Regions from separate parts of the Homo sapiens genome. Here regions 2, 3 and 4 are each linked to region 1. The links come from fine-mapping of genetic effects on gene expression. A gene starts in region 1. Each other region holds a variant in brackets. All regions are shown on one strand. Distances are between the middles of the regions. Region 1 holds the start of ALPL (alkaline phosphatase, biomineralization associated). Region 2 overlaps ALPL (alkaline phosphatase, biomineralization associated). Region 3 overlaps ALPL (alkaline phosphatase, biomineralization associated). Region 4 overlaps ALPL (alkaline phosphatase, biomineralization associated).

The links. PIP is the estimated chance that this variant, and not a neighbour inherited with it, causes the effect.
Region 2: its variant is fine-mapped to the expression of ALPL in fibroblasts (GTEx, PIP above 0.99).
Region 3: its variant is fine-mapped to the expression of ALPL in whole blood (TOPMed, PIP above 0.99).
Region 4: its variant is fine-mapped to the expression of ALPL in whole blood (TOPMed, PIP 0.99).

Annotation. Positions count from the first base shown.
Region 1 is chr1:21,506,491-21,511,490 of GRCh38, reverse strand. ALPL (alkaline phosphatase, biomineralization associated) reads right to left here and starts at 2,068. Exons shown (of 12, transcript NM_000478.6): 1 at 1,974-2,068. RefSeq lists enhancers at 985-1,554, 1,555-2,125 and a silencer at 2,161-2,260.
Region 2 is chr1:21,550,876-21,556,132 of GRCh38, reverse strand. ALPL (alkaline phosphatase, biomineralization associated) reads right to left here. Exons shown (of 12, transcript NM_000478.6): 2 at 1,991-2,155. The coding sequence starts at 2,051. Among named protein-coding and RNA genes, the nearest start is that of LINC02596, 33 kb to the left of the region's middle. The variant T/C (reference allele first, on the strand shown) is at 2,558.
Region 3 is chr1:21,560,619-21,565,875 of GRCh38, reverse strand. It overlaps ALPL (alkaline phosphatase, biomineralization associated), which reads right to left. Exons shown (of 12, transcript NM_000478.6): 3 at 5,131-5,250; 4 at 4,664-4,779; 5 at 2,592-2,766; 6 at 1,660-1,835. Among named protein-coding and RNA genes, the nearest start is that of LINC02596, 23 kb to the left of the region's middle. The variant T/C (reference allele first, on the strand shown) is at 3,029.
Region 4 is chr1:21,538,151-21,543,150 of GRCh38, reverse strand. All of the region lies in intron 1 of ALPL (alkaline phosphatase, biomineralization associated), which reads right to left. Among named protein-coding and RNA genes, the nearest start is that of ALPL, 31 kb to the right of the region's middle. RefSeq lists an enhancer at 4,659-5,000. The variant A/G (reference allele first, on the strand shown) is at 2,153.

The DNA of each region.
Region 1 (5,000 bases):
GAAGAGAGCTGAGGATAGCCAGGATTTTCTTAAGCACAGGTACCAGCTTAAACCCTTCGCAAGCATTCATCATATCTAGACCTCACCACTGGTAGGCACTATTGATCTCCACAGCTTATGGGAGGAGGCCGAGGCACAGAGAGGGAACAGAACTGATCCCAGGTCCCACAGCAAGGCTGCCTTTGCTAAAGTGAGGGCCAAAGGTTGGCCAATCCATTTTACAGGTGATTGCGTCTTAATCTCCTTCCTTATGAATAGCTTGATTTCAAGTCTACACTGTGAATTCTGACAGTTTCAAAGCCTGAAAGAATTTTGTTATGCAAACATCCAATCCAGAAGAGGGCTTTTGGCTGATTTACTGTGGCATTCCCGGCACCTAGAACAGAGCTTGGCACACGGCGGATGCTTAAGTATTTGCTGAATGAAGATAGCATCTTGTTCTGGCCTCAGTTCAGTTTTATTCCTCACAATAGTCCCGAAAGGGGAATACACCCCTTTTTACAAATGGGCACATGGACCGGGATCATCACTCAGCCTAGTCTTCACCAGTTGGGATGTTGAGAAGCTGTGTCCAGGGGCCTCTTCTGAGGGAATTCACAGGTATTCAGTTAAAGAAAGAAAAAGGTGACACAGGAACAAGATGCATGGGGCCAGGGAGTGGGATGGCTGGGGCAGGACAGCGTGGGGACACCCACAGGTGGGGAGGACTAAACAGTTGGAAAGAGCAAGACTGGAGAGTGGAGGAAGAGCGGGCTGAGCCCAGGAGGAGCCGGAAGACAAAACCAAGGCTCAGCCCCCTATCTCTTAGGCAACACAGTGGGAGCAGGACGCTAGGGCTGCAGAGTTTGGAGTCTGGATTCAAACCCTGGTCCCACCACTTACTTAAATTGTCTAAGCCTCAGTTTCCCCATTTGTAAAATGAAATGATGTACATGAGATGTCAGAGCAGGTCCCTCTACGCACGGTAGGCCTTCAAAAAACAGTTGCAGTATCTACACTGAGGCTGGGACCCAACCCCTGCCTCCCTGGGCAGCTGGGCCCACCTGAGCGGTCTGACTTTTTCCCAGGGCCCAAAGCCCTTCCTGGCCCAAGAATCGCCCCCTCTTTTGATCTCAAGGAATTTCACCCTCCACCCAGAGGCCTTTGTAAAGGCCCCGCCTTCGACCCCATTATGTGTTGAAAAAGAGTCATAAGGCACAATGGGGAGTGGGGGAGGCTTTCCTCGGCCTCCTGCCTTTCTGCTGAGACCTGCGTTTAACCCTTTCTTACCAAGACTGGGCAGGGAAGCAGCCCTGGGAGGCCCACCTCGCAAAGCCTAAAGGGGGCGGCAGGCTCCTTCGGCTTCGCGGGCTCCAGAGCTTTGCCCCACAGCTGCGGTGCCCACAGTGGGTGCCCACACTTTGACACCCACGCGGGTGTCCTCTGTCTCCTCCCGCCACGCCCCCCATTCCAAGCGCCTCCTGCCCTCTCCTCCTCCCAAACCAAACTGCTTTAGACCCCACCGGGTCAGGTGGGACGCCTGGGAGGGCGCCAGGCCACGAGGCCTTGGGGTTGGCAGCCCAGGTCTCTAGAGCTACGGCTAAGGAGGCACCAGGAGGGGCTCAGTCACGGGGCACCAAGGGCAGGTGCCCAGACAGAGCGCAGGGTCCCAGGCAGCGGCTCGGGAGGTAGGAGACCCTGGGACTGCAGGGCGGTCCCGAGCGCGGTCCCCTGAGTTCGCCGGCTCCGCGGGCGCCACGTCCAATCTCCTGTCCCGCCCAGAGCGCGCGCCGGGAGCTTGGGATGCGCGGGAGGACAGGGGCAGGACCAATTGCAGGGCGTCCCGAATGGGCTGCTGTGGGCGGCGTGGCGCTGGAGACCCCGGCCCTGCCATTAAAGTTCAACCACGGGGCCAGCGGAGGATGCAGAAGGGGATGGACCACGTCCGCTGGGGCCCTGGGGAACCAGGGCGCGGGGCAGCGTCGAATCCTTACCTGCGCAGAGCACTGGCGAGGGTCCGTCCAGGCACAAGCGCGTGGGAGCACGGAGCCAGGATAGCGGGCGCGGAGTGGCGGGAGCGCAACGCGGCCCGGGCCACCACCCCCGCCGCCTTATAAAGGCGGCCGCGGGGCCCGAGTGAGGCCCGGGCAGCCCGCCCCCTCCCCCGCCCCCGGCCCCAACCCCTCCCCAGCCCGGCCCCGGCCCCGCCCCCGGCCCGAGCCCCGCGCCCCGCGGGCCGGTCGTGCCACGAGGCCAGGGCGCCCCCTGCCGGGAGCGGAGCTAGGAACGGGCTGGGGTGACGCGGCCCTGGCGTCCCTCGCCCGCCCCGCACTCTCGGTCTCTCTGCCTCCGGGCTGCCCCAGCCCAGCCCTTCCTCTCTCAGCGAGCCTGGGCTCTGACCTGCTCCTTGCGCGCGTCTCCTGTTTTGTCTTTACCGTCGGCATCTTCCTTCTGCGTCTCTTGGTGGGAGTCTTTGTCTCCACCCGTCTCTTTGTCTGCCTTCCTCTCTGGCGTCTGTCTCTGTGTCTGTCAACATATCTGGCTTTCTCTGGGTCTCTGTCTTTATCCGTCTCTGCCCACGTGTCCCTGTCTCTCTGTCTCTGTCCACGTGCACCTCTGACTCTGCACCCCCACCCCCGCTTCCCTGCCCGTGGGCTGCCTCCCTGGCTACCGCAAGAAGAAGCAGAAGGGGACCTCGGAGGGGTGGCATCTGGAGGGAAACCACCCCCTAGACAGGGGCCCTTCCCTCTTTCTCTCTTTAGAGACGTAAAGGGCCCGCAGGTGTCCGGCTATGTCCCAGCCAGAGCCCCAGGACATGCTCCCTGGATGCCAGAGGAGGGGCAGGCACTTCCCAGGCAGTTGAGTCAGACAGCTCAAGTTCAAAACTCTGCTCTGGTGACCTTGGCCAAGTCACTTGACCTATGTGGACCAGCCTGCCCCTCTTTAACAGGCAGACACCATCTCCCCTGGCCTCTCGCTGGTGCGAGAGTCATATGAGACAGTGCTTGAAAACTACAGAGGAAACGCTAAAATCCCGGATAGACGGGAGCCAGGGACAGAGGCTGGGTGCTACAGGCCCTGCTCCCGCTCCTGGGGAACCAGCTCTGATGGAATAACCACTCCCTTTCCTCTGAGCACTGAATTCTCTGGGCAACTTCGCAGTGAGAAGTCCGCAGGCTCTGTTTGAATGCCTCCAGCGACAGAGCTCACTGACTCCTAACAGGAGGGTCTTCTCAGTGGCCCTTGGGAAAATGTCTGCCCAGAGAACCAATTTTAGCCAGGTCAGGCAACCTCTCTTCCACTCACTCCATGCCAGTCTCAGGGCCAGGCACTGTGCATGCATTAACTTCCAAAAGCTCCATTTTCCAGAGGAGAAAACTGAGGCCCAGAGAGATCATGTGACTTCTCAGTAAGGTTGGAGCCAGAACTGGGGCCTGGTGCCAGAAACCAAGAATGTCTTTGTATTTATTTTTGTTTCTTTTGTATTTTTGGTTGATACTGTTTATTTAGAGGCGTGACATAGGTTCCCTTTTCAGATAAGTTTATGTTTTTTAAAAGTGAGTCAAAATATTGAGTAAATACTATTTATTTATGTATTTCATGGGTTGGGTGATATGGCAAAAATCATGGAGGTAGCAAATGAATGGAGTTTAGGAAATACCATCCTCTGTAAGAAATTGCAGGTGAAAGCACCCAGCACTGGGCCTAAAACATGGGAGGGGCTCAATACTTGCTCACAAATGCCAAGGAAGGGTTTAAGGATTCCAGGAGACTTAAGATGGTATCATCATCAGTGAGCCAGGGGCAAGTCCCCAGGCATGGAAAATCTGCCTGTTGCTTGGACAGAGGCTGGGAGGCAGAGCCAGAGGGAATTGGAGGCACCCATTGCACCTATCATGGGGCCAGCACCCCTGACTTTTTTTTTTTTTTTTTTTTGAGACAGGGTCCCACTCTATTGCCTAGGCTGGAATGCAGTAGCATGATGTCAGCTCACTGCAGCCTCGACCTCCCGGGCTCAAGTGATCTTCCCACCTCAGCCTCCCCAGCAGCCAGGACTACAGGTGTGCACCACCACGCCCGGCTAATTTTTGTATTTTTTTGTAAAGAACAGGGTTTTGCTATGTTGCTCAGGCTGGTCTCGAACTCCTAAGCTCAAGTGATCCCCCTGCCTCCTTATCCCAAAGTGATGGGATTACAGGCATGAGCCACCACACCCGACCCTATCCCTGACTTCTGATCTCCCCAAAGCTATGAGGGACGGGCACTTCTGGTTGAGCCACATGGCCAGCATTAGGTCCCCCATGTCTGTGATTTGCCCTCAAGTCCCTCCACCTCGGGATTTCAGGGATTGGTTATCAGCAGCAGGGACTATACTGCTTGGCCAGCCCTGCCACCTTCCACCCTCAAACCCTCTTACTCTGCTCCTGGGCTGGGTCCCTCAAGGAGAATTCAACTGAGATGGGGCATCCAGCAGCCCTTGCCTCCCCTGCTCCCCGGGTGCCCCTCCTCCTGGCTCTGTCAACACAGCGGAAAGAAGTCCTGGACCTGGAACCAGGAGACTCCAGTCCATCCTCCAGCTCTGCCCTGGCTTGCTGGGGAGCTGAGCAAGTCACTTTTCCCATCGAGGTTCAGATTCCTTCTGGCCTTTTGAACTGGACAATCTCTAAGTGCAACCCAGATGCCATGATTTCAGGACCACTCAGCTGGTGGCAACAGCTCATTACATTCGATTTCTCTCCATCATTGTCCCTGGGGCACCACTTCCTTGTTGAAAACTAAACAAATTGGATTTAACCTCCAAGCTCCCTGTGCCTAAGAGCTAATGATGTCTTTTGAGTCTCACAGCAGTATCATAAGGTGGGCAGGGCAGGTGTTTACAATCCCCACTATACATGGGGTACACCAAGGCCAGAGATAGTAGTTACTTACAGGTCAGGGTCAGAGCTGGGTTTGGTTACCAGGTTTACTATTCCCAGTCCAGGGCTTTTTCCATTCATCCATTTATTCCGTATCTGTTAAGT
Region 2 (5,257 bases), 45 kb before region 1:
CACCATGCCATGCTGTGGAAACACTTCCGCGTGAATCTCCAACAGAAAAACAAAAAACTCGGCCGGGTGCGGTGGCTCATGCCTGTAATCCCAGCACTTTAGGAGGCCAAGGCAGGCGGATCACCTGAGGTCAGGAGATCGAGACCATCCTGGCTAACATGGTGAAACCCCGTCTCTACTAAAAGTACAAAAAAATTAGCTGCGCGTGGTGGCGGGCACCTGTAGTCCCAGCTACTTGGGAGGCTGAGGCAGGAGAATGGCGTGAACCCGGGAGATGGAGCTTGCAGTGAGCCAAGATTGCGCCACTGCACTCCAGCCTGGGCGACAGAGAGAGACACTGTCTCAAAAAAAAGAAAAACAAAAAACTCCTGTTGAAGATGAGTTCACTAGTGAGAACTACAAATGACAAGAAAAAGGCTGGGCACAGTGGCTCACACCTGTAATCCCAGCACTTTGGGAGGCCAAGGCGGGTGGATCACTTGAGGTCAGGAGTTCGAGATCAGCCTGGCCAACATGATGAAACCCCGTCTCTAATAAGAATACAAAAAATTAGCCGGGTGTTGCGGCGCACGCCTGTAATCCCAGCTACTCAGGAGGCTGAGGCAGGAGGATCACTTGAACCTGGGTGGCGAAGGTTGCAGTGAGCTGAGATCACGTCACTGCACTCCATCCTGGGCAAACAGAGTGAGAGTCTGTCTCTGTCTCAAAAAGAAAGTGTCAGGCGTCTGAGCCCAAGCTAAGCCATCATATCCCCTGTGACCTGCACATATACATCCAGACGGCCTGAAGTAACTGAAGAATCACAAAAGAAGTGAAATTTAAATGGTCTGTTCCTACCTTAACTGATGACATTCCACCACAAAAGAAGTGAAAATGGCCGGTCCTTGCCTTAACTGACGACATTACCTTGTGAAATTCCTTCTCCTGGCTCATCCTGGCTCAAAAAGCTCCCCCACTGAGCACCTTGTGACCCCCACTCCTGCCCGCCAGAGAACCCCCCTTTGACTGTAATTTTTCCTTTACCTACCCCTATCTTATAAAACGGCCCCACCCATATCTCCCTTGGCTGACTCTCTTTTTGGACTTAGCCCGCCTGCACCCAGGTGAAATAAACAGCCTTGTTGCTCACTCAAAGCCTGTTTGGTGGTCTCTTCACTCGGATGCGAGAGAAAAGAAAGGAAAGAAAGGAAAGAAAAAGAAAAGAAAGAAAGAAAGAAAGAAAAGAGAAAGAAAGAAAGAAAGAAAAAGAAAGAAAGAGAGAAAGAAAGAAAGAAAGAAAGAAAGAAAGAAAGAAAGAAAGAAAGAAAGAAAGAAAGACAGACAGACAGACAGACAGACAGACAGGCCAGGCGCGGTGGCTCACGCCTGTAATCCCAGCACTTTGGGAGGCCGAGGCAGGCGGATCATGAGGTCAGGAGATCGAGACCATCCTGGCTAACACGGTGAAACCCCATCTCTACTAAAAATACAAAAAATTAGCCTGGCGCGGTGGCGGGCACCTGTAGTCCCAGCTACTTGGGAGGCTGAGGCAGGAGAATGGCGTGAACCCAGGAGGCAGAGCTTGCAGTGAGCCAAGATGGCGCCACTGCACTCTAGCTTGGGCAACAGAGCGAAACCCTGTCTCAAAAAAAAAAAAATTAAGAAAGAATATATATAATATATATGAAATATATATATGGAAAAATATATATATGAAATATATATATGGAAAAATATATATGTGGAAAATATATATTTCCTTGTATATATATATTTTCCTTGTATATATATATTTCATATATGTGTATGTGTGTATATATATATATATGGGAAAAGAGTGACCTATCCAACTAACACATGCAAGTAGCAGGGCTGAGGTTTCCTGCTCTGAACACTGTTTTCAGCTCTTAAATACTTTGGATGGTTCTGGGACCTTAAAACATAGACACTGCCCTCATCATACCCCATCTGCACCACCTTTTTATGCCTCCACCTGTGTCCCCAAGCATACCTGGCACTAAGGAGTTAGTAAGGCAGGTGCCAATGGCCAGTACTAAGAATGGTGAAATCATGGTGCACCCCAAGACCTGCTTTATCCCTGGAGCCCAGAGATGCAATCGACGTGGGTGGGAGGGGGTGGGCTGGCAGTGGTCAGATGTTAACTGATGTTCCAATCCTAGAAATTAAAAAAAGAGAAAAAGAGGCATGTGGGGCACAGCTCTAGAGATCCTTTTTCACTCACTTATTCATTCCTTGATTCATTCAACAAGTATTCGGTGAGCACCTATTACAGACCAGGCATGGGGCTCAACATTGGGATGCCAAACCCAGCTGGTCCCTGTCTCAGGAAGCTTAACCACACAAACAGCTGTGTCAGTGTCAATGAGTTCCATGCTGCAAAGCAGTTCCGTCCCATTTCCTAAGTGAATTTCCACTTTCAATTCATCTGAAGCCCCCTACCTCCCAGAGTCCAATCTTTTGGTGCAGTGTTTCTCAAACTGTAAGGAGAGCAAGCATCTGAATCCCCCAAGGGCTTGTTACAACAGATTCCCGGCCCACTGGTGAGGCTCCGATTGTA[T/C]TTCTAATAAGCTCCCAGGAGAAGCTGCTGCTTTGCTGCTTTGCGGACCACACCTTGAGAAGCCCTGTTCTACAGCACTCGGTCTTCAGCCTTTTAATTACCTGTGTCCCAGGAACATCAGGGACAAAACAGAGTGCACCCCTTCTTTCAGGACCCCTACATTTGCTACATTCTCTTCTAGAGCTTGTCGTTTATGGTAAGAGATATAAAAATGGTAGGAGTCACATATGTGAAAAAACTGGCTGGTAAGTGTGGCCATTTCTGGGTGGTGACATCACAGACAACTGATTTTTCTTTTCCATTGTCTTTTCTGCATTTCCAAAATTTTCTTTTGTGCTGAGATACAGTATTATCTTTACAATTTTTAAAAAATATATATATATTTAAAGTCGGATGTAATTGAAGAGTTTAGGTGGAAAAAAAAACTGGAAGGAAATACACCAAAACATTAACTGTGGTTTTCTCTGGGTGGTAGGACTATGAATGATTATTTCCTCTTTATTTTTTTGAATTTTCCAAGTAGCCTAAAACAAGCATGTATTAATGGCATAAGAATGTTTTTACACTGTGGTCTTCCTGTTAAATCACAAAGAACAACCCCACTGGCAGCTGAGAAATGTACTAACCCTGTTGCACATGAGTTACAAGACAAAGAATTTTAAGTGGCAAGAGTTTCACTGGGAAATGTTATTGCTTCAGCCAAAACCAAGATATGACACCATTTGTTGTGGGAAACAGCAGTAATACACACTCTACCGTTAGAAAAGTGTTGTGACAGATAAGACACCACTCTAGTCCAATTATTATATGTTAAGTAAAAACAAAATAAAACATTTTTTAAAAGTTGTTTAAAGAAAAAAAGCCAGGCATGGTGGTAACATGCCTGTAATCCCAGCTACTTGGGAAGCTGAGGCTGGAGGAAGTTCGCTTCAGGCCTGGAGTTGGAGACCAGCCTGGGCAACACAGCGAGACCCTGTCTCTAAGAAAAATTTTTGTATTTTAATTTTTTAAAAGTTTCTTTTCTTTTTAAAAATTCTTCTCTTTGCAGCTCCAGCTCAAAGGAAAAAGATTTTTTCTTTTTCTTTTTTTTTTTTTTGAGACGGAGTTTTGTTCTTGTTGCCCAGGCTGGAGTGCAATGGCACAACCTCGGCTCACTGCAACCTCCGCCCCCCGGGTTCAAGCAATTTTCCTGCCTCAGCCTCCCGAGTGGCTGGGATTACAGGCTTGCGCCACCATGCCCGGCCAATTTTGTATTTTTAGTAGAGATGGGGTCCATGTTGGTCAGGCTGGTCTCGAACTCCCGACCTCAGGTGATCTGCCCACCTTGGCCTCCCAAAGTGCTGGGATTACAGGTGTGAGCTGCCGCGCCCATCCAAGATTTTTTTTTTTAATTTAAAAATAGAGAAAAAGAAAAGGAGAAAAGGAAGGAGGGAGGGGAGGGGAGGGGAGGGAGGAAAGGGAAGGGGAGGAAAGGGAAGGGAAGGGAAGGGAGAAAAAGAAACCACTACCACCAGAAGAAGGATCTTGATTCAACCTTAAAAACACGCAAATGGCCGGGCGCGGTGGCTCACGCCTGTAATCCCAGCACTTTGGGAGGCCGAGGCGGGCGGATCACGAAGTCAGGAGATCGAGACCATCCTGGCTAACACAGTGAAACCCCGTCTCTACTAAAAATACAAAAAATTAGCCGGGAGAGGTAGCGGGCGCCTGTAGTCCCAGCTACTCAGGAGGCTGAGGCAGGAGAATGGCGTGAACCCGGGAGGCGGAGCTTGCAGTGAGCCGAGATCGCGCCACTGCACTCCAGCCTGGGCGACAGCGAGACTCTGTCTCAAAAAAAAAAAAAAAAAAAAAAAAAACCACGCAAGCTGCGCTCCAGTGCCAGAAGTGACGGCTCTGGGGTAGGGGCTGGGGGTAGCGGCGCAGAGTGGAAATTAAAAGGCAATATCCCACATCTAACATCTAACAACACTTAACTGTGAGTGGTAGAATTTGGAATTTCAGATGATTCCTACATTTTTTTTTTTGTTCTACTTTACGGTTTCCAAATATTTCTATAGCAAATCCTAAAATCAGAAAAATGTTATTAACTGAATACGAAATACTAATTCATTAAACTATTATTTAAAATCACTTAAAAATGAAGTCACCTCTTTCAGGAAGGCTCCAGGATGGTCACTCACTCATTCCAATATAACACCACTGAGCTTCATGCCACCTCAAACATCGCATGTACCTCTCTTTTTGAAGGTAATATAGTTCTTTCCTGGGCCATCTCAGCTGCCACACCGGGAGTTTCTAAGTGTGAGGACTTTGTCTTGTTTGTCTCTGCCCTCCTAGTGCTTGGCATAGTAAATATTTACATCAGTTGAAAGCCAGTGCCCTAAGGAAGGTTGTGGGGGGAAGGGAAGAGCCATCCAAAATTATCTTCTCTGTGTGTGCAGGAAAGTCCAAGAGTTCGTGAAGATGTTTAACTACCGGAAGGTCCGCTCGCCGTTGGTGGAGTGCAGACAGGCACAGCGCATGGGAAAACCGGCAGGATCTACCGAAGCTGATCATCCTACCTGTACCCTGGGACCCGTTTCTCTCCAGCAGAATGTGCACATCAGCCCTGTTTATAATGGCTTCAAAACTGCCTCCATCTACGGCAGGCTGGATAATACATTGTGTGTGTTCACAACACAGAAACCACCACAGACAGCA
Region 3 (5,257 bases), 54 kb before region 1:
GGTTTGTGTCTTTCTTTCTTTCTTTCTCTTCTTTCTTTTTTTTTTTTAAGCAACAGTATTTATTTTCAGGGTGGACACCAGGATTTTTGTTTCATGTACAGTCTGGGGACTGGGAGGCTTTTGGGGGGGTGGTGACGGAGAGGCAGGTGGGGCTGGGAGAGAAAGGAAGAGGAGGAAAGAAAGGGATCCTCACACAGGTCCTCCGTCCTCACTCACTCCCTGGCTTGTGCCCCTTGACGTGGCCCCTGCGGCCCCCCCTCCTCATCTCCCACCCCCTCACCTGAAACATCTTCCCTCCCCTCGAATTTCCTTCAAGTTCCTGTCCCCTGCTCAGGCTGTCCCTGACAAACCCCTCTGAGGAGCAGTCCCCATGTAATTATACCCTGTGCCTGTACAACAAATGTTCTCACATCCATGACCTCATCACGGCCTCCCACGGCCCTGGGAGCAAGCAAGTGTGGCTCTCTGTTTCTGCTGCACAGGTGGGGAAACTGAGGCATAGGGAGGGGAAGGAACTCGCCCCAGGCCACATGTCGGGTGAAGGCAAGCCAGGATGAGTGGCTTGGCCTCAGATGTCTGTTCAGTGAAAGGGGCCAACAGCACTGTGTGTCCTGAAAGCGGGTACTTAATCCACCATGCTGGGAAAAGGGCAGACGTGGGTCTCTACTGTGGAGGGGCCAAGTAGCCCCCAGAAATTTGTGGGGGGCAGTGCATGGAGGGCTGAAGGCAGGTGAGTTTGTCTGGTGGTGGAGAGAAAGAGGTGAGGTGTAGCTGGGCAGGGGGGCTTTCTCTGCCCCTCACCGAATCCCCATTCCAGGCTCAAGGGGCAGAAGTCCCCAGATCGCCTCAGCAGTCCCCCACAGTAGGCAATAAAAGCCTGAAAAGGAACGAGCCGGGCATTCTCACTTAAGAACAGAGAGTAAGCGTCACATGGATGACTTCTGTCTCCATGAGTCAGCTCAGTTTGTTGAAGTGTGTTTCAGGGCAAGGACATGTGGCTCCTGCGTAAGTGCCACCACCTTCTGGGCACTCGCTAGGCCTCGGGTCCTGTGCTGAGCTCCACAGGGATTATCTTAATCAGTTCTTGGCATAAGCTTATGAGGCAGGTACAGTTCACAAAGGAGTTGTGAAAGGGAAGCCTCAGAGAGGTTAAGTAACTGACCCAAGGTCACACAGCTAGCAACACGCAGGGCAAGGTCTGGAACTCGGAAGTTTAAACACGAGAGCTGGCACTAGCCAACCACTGTACACACCAGCTCTTTGCCGGGCATGCTGGTGGTTGAGTGTACAGATATGTACCCATCTGTGACCATGTGAATACGCAGGGCAGGCAGACGACACTTGGCCATCACCACCTCCCGTGTAGTGGGGGGCAGAGGAGGGCACAGCACCAGGTTTCAATTTATGGAATCATCCCTGGATGCCTGGTTCTTGGGGTGTGGTGGCGGTCACATGAGGGTTCACCCCGCAGCCCCACCGCAGAGAAATCCCACAGTGCCTGCCTGCCCAACCGCAAATCCCCTAATGGGCTGGGAGCCTCCCAGGTGTGTGGGGAGCCAGGCCAGGCTGCTTTCTCCGGGCCAGCCTGGGCCTGAGGCCTCCTGCCCACCAGAGGCCCCGCCTCACCCCGTCCCTGCCCGGCTGCCCCCGAGCACTCACGTCAATGTCCCTGATGTTATGCATGAGCTGGTAGGCGATGTCCTTACAGCCCTGGCTCAAGGCCTCAGGGGGCATCTCGTTGTCTGAGTACCAGTCCCGGTCAGCCGAGTGGGCGTAGGCGGCGCTGGGGGTGGCATGGTTCACTCTCGTGGTGGTCACAATGCCCACAGATTTCCCTGGGGTGCAGGAGGGGCGGGTTTGGCTTTATCCACAGATCGGGGTGTCCCAGAGGCCTCCTCCCTCCCTTCCCCCTCCCCGCTAAAGACAGGCCCCCGCTTCAGTTCTGAGGATTGCCCGGGTCTCAGTCTCCCCATCCACAGCAGCAGGTGTCTGGCAGTGGCTTCCAAGTAGCCGAGCAGCCAGAACACTGCCTCTGGAACCCTCTCCCCTCACCCCGAAGGCCCTTGAGATGTGAGCACCTGGGCTGGAGTCCTCCCCTTCATCAAGGCGCCCACAGGACCCCTGAGGGATCTCAAGTGGACTGTGGCTCTGTCACCTGTATGTTGGCCTTGTCACCTGTGTTTTGGCCTTGGCCCCTGACTAAAGCTTCTGGGGGCACAGGCTGGGCCTCCCAATTCTGAGGAGGGAAGGGGCGTGGCCATGGACTGCACCCCACAGGCTAGCCCTGGGCTGACTTCTCCCTCCTCACACCAACCCTATGAGGGGGCTACGTTCCCACCCGTTTTATAGTCAAATGAAGAATCGACTCAGAGAAATGAACTGGGACCAGAACCCACCACTGAGTGAACCCCAAACCCTCAGCTTCCCCTGTCACGGAAGGAATCCCATGGATATTACAGACTCCCAGCATATCAGAGCTGGGAGCCCCACAGAGAAGCCTTTTCTAGCCCCTTCCCATGACACAGTCAGAAAGACTGAGGCCTGGACAGGCCACGAAGCTGGCCCTGCTCCCCACTGCTCCCCCGACTCACCAGCGTCCTTGGCCCAGCGCAGGATGGAGGTGACCTCGTTCCCCTGGGTGGTGTTGCACCGGGAACGCTCAGTGGCTGCGCTTACCCCCACGGTGCCCTCATTGGCCTTCACCCCACACAGGTAGGCGGTGGCGGTGCCGGCACTGTCAGGGACCTGGGCATTGGTGTTGTACGTCTGCAGGTGGGAGAGGAGGGTCAGGAGATGGCCAGGCCTTCGCCCCAGTGGCACCCACCCCGCCTACACTCACACCATGGGGACTGGGGCGTGAGGGACCAGAGAGGACCCCATAGCCTTGACCAGGCCCACTGCCCACTGAAGCCCCCCAGAGCCACAGGACTACCTAGCTGCCTGCTTCCTGCCATCATTCCCTGCACCCTGGCAGCACTGGGGCAGGACCTTAGCTCTCCAAAGTACAGAGAAGTGTCCGGCGGAAGAT[T/C]GGGGCTCAGGTGGGGTCAGCGGAGGCCTCTCTCCGGGCCTGGGGCTGCAGGAGCCAGCAAGGGGTTGGGGAGCAGGGGAGTCCTGGAGAAGGGAGAGGGAGGGGCCTTCTTGAAGGAGTGGGGGGTCTGGGGATAGGGTAGTGAAAGTGAGGGGGAAGGGGACTGGGGAAGGGAAGGGTGGGGCCAAGACCAGCGCTGACTTCTCTGCCACCTGCCCTGCGGCCACCATCACAGGGTTGCCCTACATCCGGATGTTTAGCAGAGACCCCAAAACTATTTGCCTGTCTCCCTTCCCCACCAGCCTGAGAGCACCTTGAAGGCACAGAAGGCACCATAGTCCCCACTACTCCCCCAGAAGTGAGCCTGGGGCCTGACCCAGGGTCTGGAGGTTATTACATAACACCACTATCACCACCACCAATAGCAATAGCTACCCGGCAGTGCACACTGCCTTGAACAACCTAGGTCAGTACAGGCACACCTCATTTTAGTGTACTCCACAGACACTGTGTTTGTTACAAATTGAAGATCTGTGGCAACCCTGTGTCAAGCAAGTCTATCAGCATCATTTTTTCCAAAAACATGAGCTCACTTCATTAGCGTTTTTTAGCAATAGCATATTTTTAAATTAAGGTATATACATTTTTTTAGACATAATGCTATCCCACACTTAAAAGACTACTGTAGGGTGCAAACATAACTTTTATATGCACTGGGAAACCAAAAAATGTGTGACTTGCTTCATTGCAATATTTGCTTTATTACAGTGGCCTGGAACCAAACCCGAAGTATAGCTGAGGTATGCCTATAGTCTAATTAACTTCACGAACTGCCTCGGGAAAGAATGAATGAACTGGAACTTCATGCAAAAGTGTATACAGGCCAGGCACGGTGGCTCATGCCTGTAATCCTAGCACTTTGGGAGGCCAAGGTGGGCAGATCACCTGGGGTCAGGAGTTCGAGACCAGCCTGGCCAACAGGGTGAAACCTTGTCTCTACTAAAAATAAAAAAATTAGCTGGGCATGGTGGCGCATGCCTGTAATCCCAGCTACTTGGGAGGCTGAGGCAGAAGAATCACTTGAACTCGGGAGGCAGAGGTTGCAGTGAGCTGATGTCATGCTACTGTACTCCAGCCTGGAAGACAGAGTAAGACTGTCTCAAAAAAAAAAAAAAAAAAAAGGCATATATAGGCCGTGCATGGTGGCTCACGCCTGTAATCCCAAGACTGGGAGGCCAAGGCTGTAGGATCGCTTAAGCCCAAGAATTAGAGACCTTGGGGGGGTCTCTAATTATCCATATGTGGTGGTACACACCTGTAGTCCCAGCTACTCGGGAGGCTAACGTGGGAGGATGGCTTGAGCCCAGGAGTTGGAGGCTGCAGTGAGCTATGACTGCACCACTGCACTGCAGCCTGGGCAACAGAGCAAGACCCTCTCTCTAAACACACACCCGCAAGCAGGTACAGTGATGCTATGGTGTCAGAAGTCAGGGCAGTGGCTGCTCCAGGTGGGGAGTGGGCTTGGGCATGGAGGGGGCTCAGGGGGTCAGGGGACCTCTGGCTGCTGTCATGTTCAGATGCTCGACCTGGATACTGGATATACAGACCTGAACTGGGCTTGGGGATGGGGCTCACCTTGGAGAGGGCCACGAAGGGGAACTTGTCCATCTCCAGCCTGGTCTCCTCCCCAGGGTTGTGGTGGAGCTGACCCTTGAGGATGCGGGCAGCCGTCACTGTGGAGACACCCATCCCTGCAGTGGGGAGTGGGGGCCTCAGTCTCTCGTGCTCCTGCCTCTCCAATCAGCCTGCTTGGGTACCCAGAAGCTCTCTAGTTCGGTACCAAGGCAGGCTCGGGCAGTTGGCACTGGGCATGGCTCTGTAAATGTCAGTGAGCAGCCCCTCTCTCCCTTCACCCCCAGATCCTCAGGGGGCTGTCTGGCAGAGCAGGCCTCTTGAATCCACAGCCTGGCCCCTCATCCTTTTAAACACCCTTCCTCCAGAGCCCTAGCCCCTTCAACACAGCCCCCTTCAACTCAGCCTGGCTCCCGGGGCTCCTAGCTAGGTGTCCTGTTCCACCCCTCCCACAGGCCCCTGGGCCTCACCATCTCCCAGGAACATGATGACATTCTTAGCCACGTTGGTGTTGAGCTTCTGAAGCTCCAGGGCATATTTCAGTGTCTCTTGCGCTTGGTCTCGCCAGTACTTGGGGTCTTTCTCTTTCTCTAAACA
Region 4 (5,000 bases), 32 kb before region 1:
TTTTTTGTTTTGAGACAGGGTCTTACTCTGTCGCCCAGGCTGGAGTGCAGTGGCACGATCATAGTTCACTGCAGCCTTAAGCGATCCTCCTGCCTCAGCCTCCCAAGTAGCTGGGACTACAGGCACACATTACCACATTTGGTTAATGTTTACATTTTTAAAATAGAGGTGGGGTCTCACTATGCTGCCCAGGCTAGTCTCGAACTCCTGGGTTCAAGTGATCCTCCTGCCTCAGCCTCCCAAAATGCTTGGATTACAGGTATAAGCCGCTGTGCCCAGCTGGAAGCTGTATTTTTTTGGTGGGGGGATTGGGGGGATGGAGTCTTGCTCTGTCACCCAAGCTGGAGTGCAGTAGCGCAATCTCGGCTCACTGCAACCTCCGCCTTCAGAGTTCAAGCGATTCTCATGCCTTAGCCTCCCTAGTAGCTGGGATTGCAGGCCCACCACCATGCCCGGCTAATTTTTGTTTTTAGTAGAGACAGGGTTTCACCATGTTGGCCAGGCTGATCTTGAACTCCTGGCCTCACGTGATCCGCCCGCCTCGGCCTCCCAAAGCACCGGGATTACAGGCGTGAGCCACTGCGCCTGGCTGGAAGCTATATTTTTAACAAGTCATTTTCTGAGCAGATTCATTTGGGAAACTTTGTCTTAGAGATCATCCCATTGTCCAAATGGGAAGACTGAGGCCTAAAGAGGAGGAAAGCCTTGCCCGGTGAGAGGAACCACTATAAGCAGACCCTGCATCTCTCAGCTGCTCCCCACCAGAGGCACACATAGGGAACTGAGTCAGCTTGGAGCCAGCATCCCCTAGCCTGTCAGCTGGGCCTTCTGGGCTCTTCCAAGGAGCTGTGGCTAGAGAGGAGTGCTGAGTTGCCCTTGTGTCCCTGGTGGGCATGAGGAATGAGGCAGGGGCTGGGGGGCACCTGCATAGCTGCCTAGGGAGGGAGCCCTGCTGAAGACCAGCCCAGTAACATTTCAGCTGCAGAGTCATAGGGAAGGGACATGGAATTCCTCTCTCCGCCAAGCCCAGCATCTCTGGCAAGCCTTGCTGGCCAGGACTGTATTCATTACTGGAGGAAGTTATTTATGGCTGTCATGAAGAGCTGGATGAAGTGCTTGCGCAGGAATGTGTGGTGGTTTCAGAGTGGGCTGCAGGTCAGATCCAAGGAAGGACTTCCCTAGAGGGCAGTGGGCCAGTGCTGGGGATTATAGTAAGGCTCAGACTTCTAGCCATTGACAGCACCCCATCCTGGCAGGAAACAGACGTGGAAGTACCCCAGAGGCCTGGTGCCAAGCCACTGCATCTTTAGGGCTTTGATGAGAACCCAGCTGTCCCCTGAGCGCTCCCAGCCTCAACACCTCTGCACTCTGTGCTTCCCAGACTAGAATGTCCCATGCTGTCCAACCAATGAATCCCTCCCCCTGCCCTCTCCCTACCCTACCCCAGCCCAGACAGCAGTTTCGGCTCCTCCCCAAGCTCCCAGCACCCAGTGCCATGAAGCCCTTGGTGAAATTAATCAGAGCCTTAGAGAATCATAGGTTGTCACCCTCTCACCGTGGTGAGCTCCTAGGGAGCTGGAATCCTGCTCTGCTGATGGCAGCAGCCCCGTGGCTGGCAGAGGCCGGCACAGGCCGGGTGGCCAGGGAATGTCGCTAGGTGGAAGGATGATGGGGTCAGAGGGTGGGTGGCTGAAGAGACAGCTCAGCAGCAGTGAAGATGGATGCTGGAGCCAGGCTGCCTGGATTCTGATCCTGCCTCTGCCCCTCACCAGCTGGGCAGCTCAGAGCAGGTGACCTCACCCCTCCACACCTAATAGAAGCCACTGCGTTGTTGTAAGGATGCCTTCATACACACAAGGGTGTAAAACGGAGGCTGGGATGTGGTAGGTGCTGAGTGAATGTCAGTCAGGAGCTAGGGTTATGGGGAGGGGGAGCAAATGAGGTGGATGGACTGCGGGGCAGAGATGGGCAAGTGGGGCAGATGAGGGGCTGGAGCAGAGAACGGATGGACCCTTCCCCGCCCACTCGATCAAGCCACCATATGCTTTGGGATTTCCCAGAGACCTGTTCACCTGGATGGCTGCAGACAGTCCTTCCAGCTCTGAGACTCTAGAACCCAGAAGCTCACCTGCCTGCTGAGTACTTTCCCTTC[A/G]AAGGGCCTGTTCTTAAGCGGCAGAGGTCCTATTCTTACAGTCAAAGGGCTCCCATCTCCAAAGAGAACCAGATCTCTCTCTCCCTCACACACTCACTTGGGAAGAAAGGAGTAACCTGCCAGGTAGCCTGACACTTCCTTTCCATCTTGAAGGGGAGAGAGAGAAAGTCTAGGACAGGGTATGGGCCAGAAGTGTCCGTGGGGGTGGGTCGAGCACCAGGCTGGAAGGATGATGGGGTTGAGATGAGCAGAGAGAGAGAGAGGACACTCCCAACAGGACCTGAGTGTTTAAAGGCAAGGAGGCAGGAATGTGTGGAGTTTGGGGTTCAGGGAGAAAGGCACGAGCAGGCGGCTTGCATTCAGGACAGAGGGGCAGCCTGGACCCACCACAAAGGGCTCTGCTCCCCAAGCACGGCCTGGTGGAGAGCAGGCCCTCTGCATGCCTCATCTCACTACATGCCCCATTGCCAGCTCCATTTTACAGGTGAGGAGGGTGAGGCTCTGACTGTCACTTACTCAAGGCCACACAGCAGAGCTGGAATCAGAAACCCTGAGGGTCTGGGTTCAGAGAAGCCAAAGCTTCTCTGGGGGTCCCTGAGGCTCCAGGACGGTCATGATGCCCCAAACCAACTCTGTGGGCAGAGGACTGAAGCCAGAGGACTAGTGGCAGGAGAGAAGCAGCAGGGAGGCGCAGTAGGGAGATCGCAGGGGAGGGAGATAGCAGGGCCCAGAGACACCATGCCTGGGGCCTGCAGTGCCCAGGCAGGGGTCGGGGGCGGAGCATGGCTGCTTTGCAGGCACACAGCCTTCTGCCATGCCATGGAAAGGACATGTTCTGCCCCAGGCCACCTCACTCTGTGCCAAGCCTAGATGCCAAGTACAGAAAGCGGTGGGGGAGGGTGGCGCACGCACTACATCTGCGGTGTTCGCCAACCACCTCCTCCAGCACTTCCCTCAGCCCTCTGCAGGGGGAGCCTCCCTGGTACTAGGAGACATGGCCGGCCCATCCTTGCTCTCACAAACAACAAGAAAAGGAAGGCACAGGCCGGGCGCGGTGGCTCAAGCCTGTAATCCCAGCACTTTGGGAGGCAGAGGTGGGCAGATCACGAGGTCAGGAGATCGAGACCATCCTGACTAACACGGTGAAACCCTGTCTCTACTAAAAATATACAAAAAATTAGCTGGGCTGGGTGGCGGGCACCTGTAGTCCCAGCTACTCGGGAGGCTGAGGCAGGAGAATGGTGTGAACTCGGGAGGTGGAGCTTGCAATGAGCTGTGATCGTGCCACTGCACTCCAGCCTGGGTGACAGAGTGAGACTCCATCTCAAAAAAAAAAAAAAAAGGAAAAAGAAAAGGAAGACACAGAGAGGGTACACAACCTCCCCAGTGTCACACAGCACATCAGGGGCAGGGATAGGTCTCCCCACTAACCAGCTGAGGATTTGGGGGGCAATTACTGGAAAGGCAAGGCAGTGTTCAAGGCGCAGCTTGGATGCCAATGTCTTGGACTTCCGTACATTAGTGATTTGCGGCAACTGATGAAAATATTTCAAACTGAGACTATTTTAGAAAAATCCTATTTTACATATTTTGTCATCGTATTCATAAGATTAATAATAACAAACCTTTTCATAGACCTTATTATGTGCCAGGCATTGTTCTAAACACTTTACCTATATTAACTCACTTGATCCCCACAACAACCTTCAAGGTAAGCACTATTATTATCCCCATTTTACAGATGACAAAACAGAAGCACAGAGAGATTAAGGAGCATGCCCAAGGTCACACAGCCAGTAAGTGAGCGAGCCAGAATTCAGCCTTACTTGGGGATGTTTCTGTCTCCCAGGACTAAGCATAAACTCCTCAAACAGGAGGCAAGACTGGAAACAAACCACCATTTGCCCTCTCTGCAATATGTACATTACACAGACACATTATACTTTTGCAGATGAAGGGATTGCGTGCAGCTGCTATTTGATTCACACTCACTACACTCTGTTCCCAAATGTTATTTCATTGTATCTGCACCACGGTTCCCAGTGGGAGGGCTTCCTATAATCATAACTTTACAGGAGAGGTGAGGTGACTTGCCAGAGGTCACACAGCAAGAGAATGTCACATCTAGGGTCCAAGTCTCTTCTGATCTTTGCACGGTATCTTGTAGCCAGCCCTGCAGTGCAACTCACTTGGGGCTTGCAGTGGCAGGGAGGGGAGGATCCCAGATTCAAGACCTGGCATTCAAGACCTGGCTCTGCCCCCGGCCAGGTGGGCGCACCCTGGCCACCCCCACCCATAATCCCCTCCTTCAACTCATCCTCAAGACAGGGCATTGGCCAATCCCGGCTCTCCCCACTCCCCTCCCCCTAGCAGAGGATGTGTCCATTGTGCAGATGGCCCCACGCAGGCCCTGTGAGAGGAGGCTGAGGAGGCGCCGGGCTGTGGGAAAAGGGACAATGAACTTGTAGCTTGCTGGGCAGCGGCCAGCACAAGCCGAATCCCTGGGTGGCGGGCGCAGAGGGCTCAGATCAGAGGAGGAAGGACGCGGGTGTTCCCAGAGACAGTGCTCAGGGCAGCTGGGCTCCAGATAACAGCGTTCCTCGCATTCCCAGAGGACGCTCCAGCCGGCCACAGAAGGCTCCGGTGGCTTTTGCGTTTGATCTCCGCGGCGACCTTGGGACATAGTAGGGCAGGGCTGACGCCGAGAGCCCCAGACAGGAAACTGGGGCCTATGGAGGTGAGGTCCCACCCAAGGGCATGCAGCTCAGCAGGCCCCCATTGACCTTGGGCACACCACCTCACCCGTCAAATGGGGACCATCCTGGTGAGAGCCTACGTCACTGGAGGA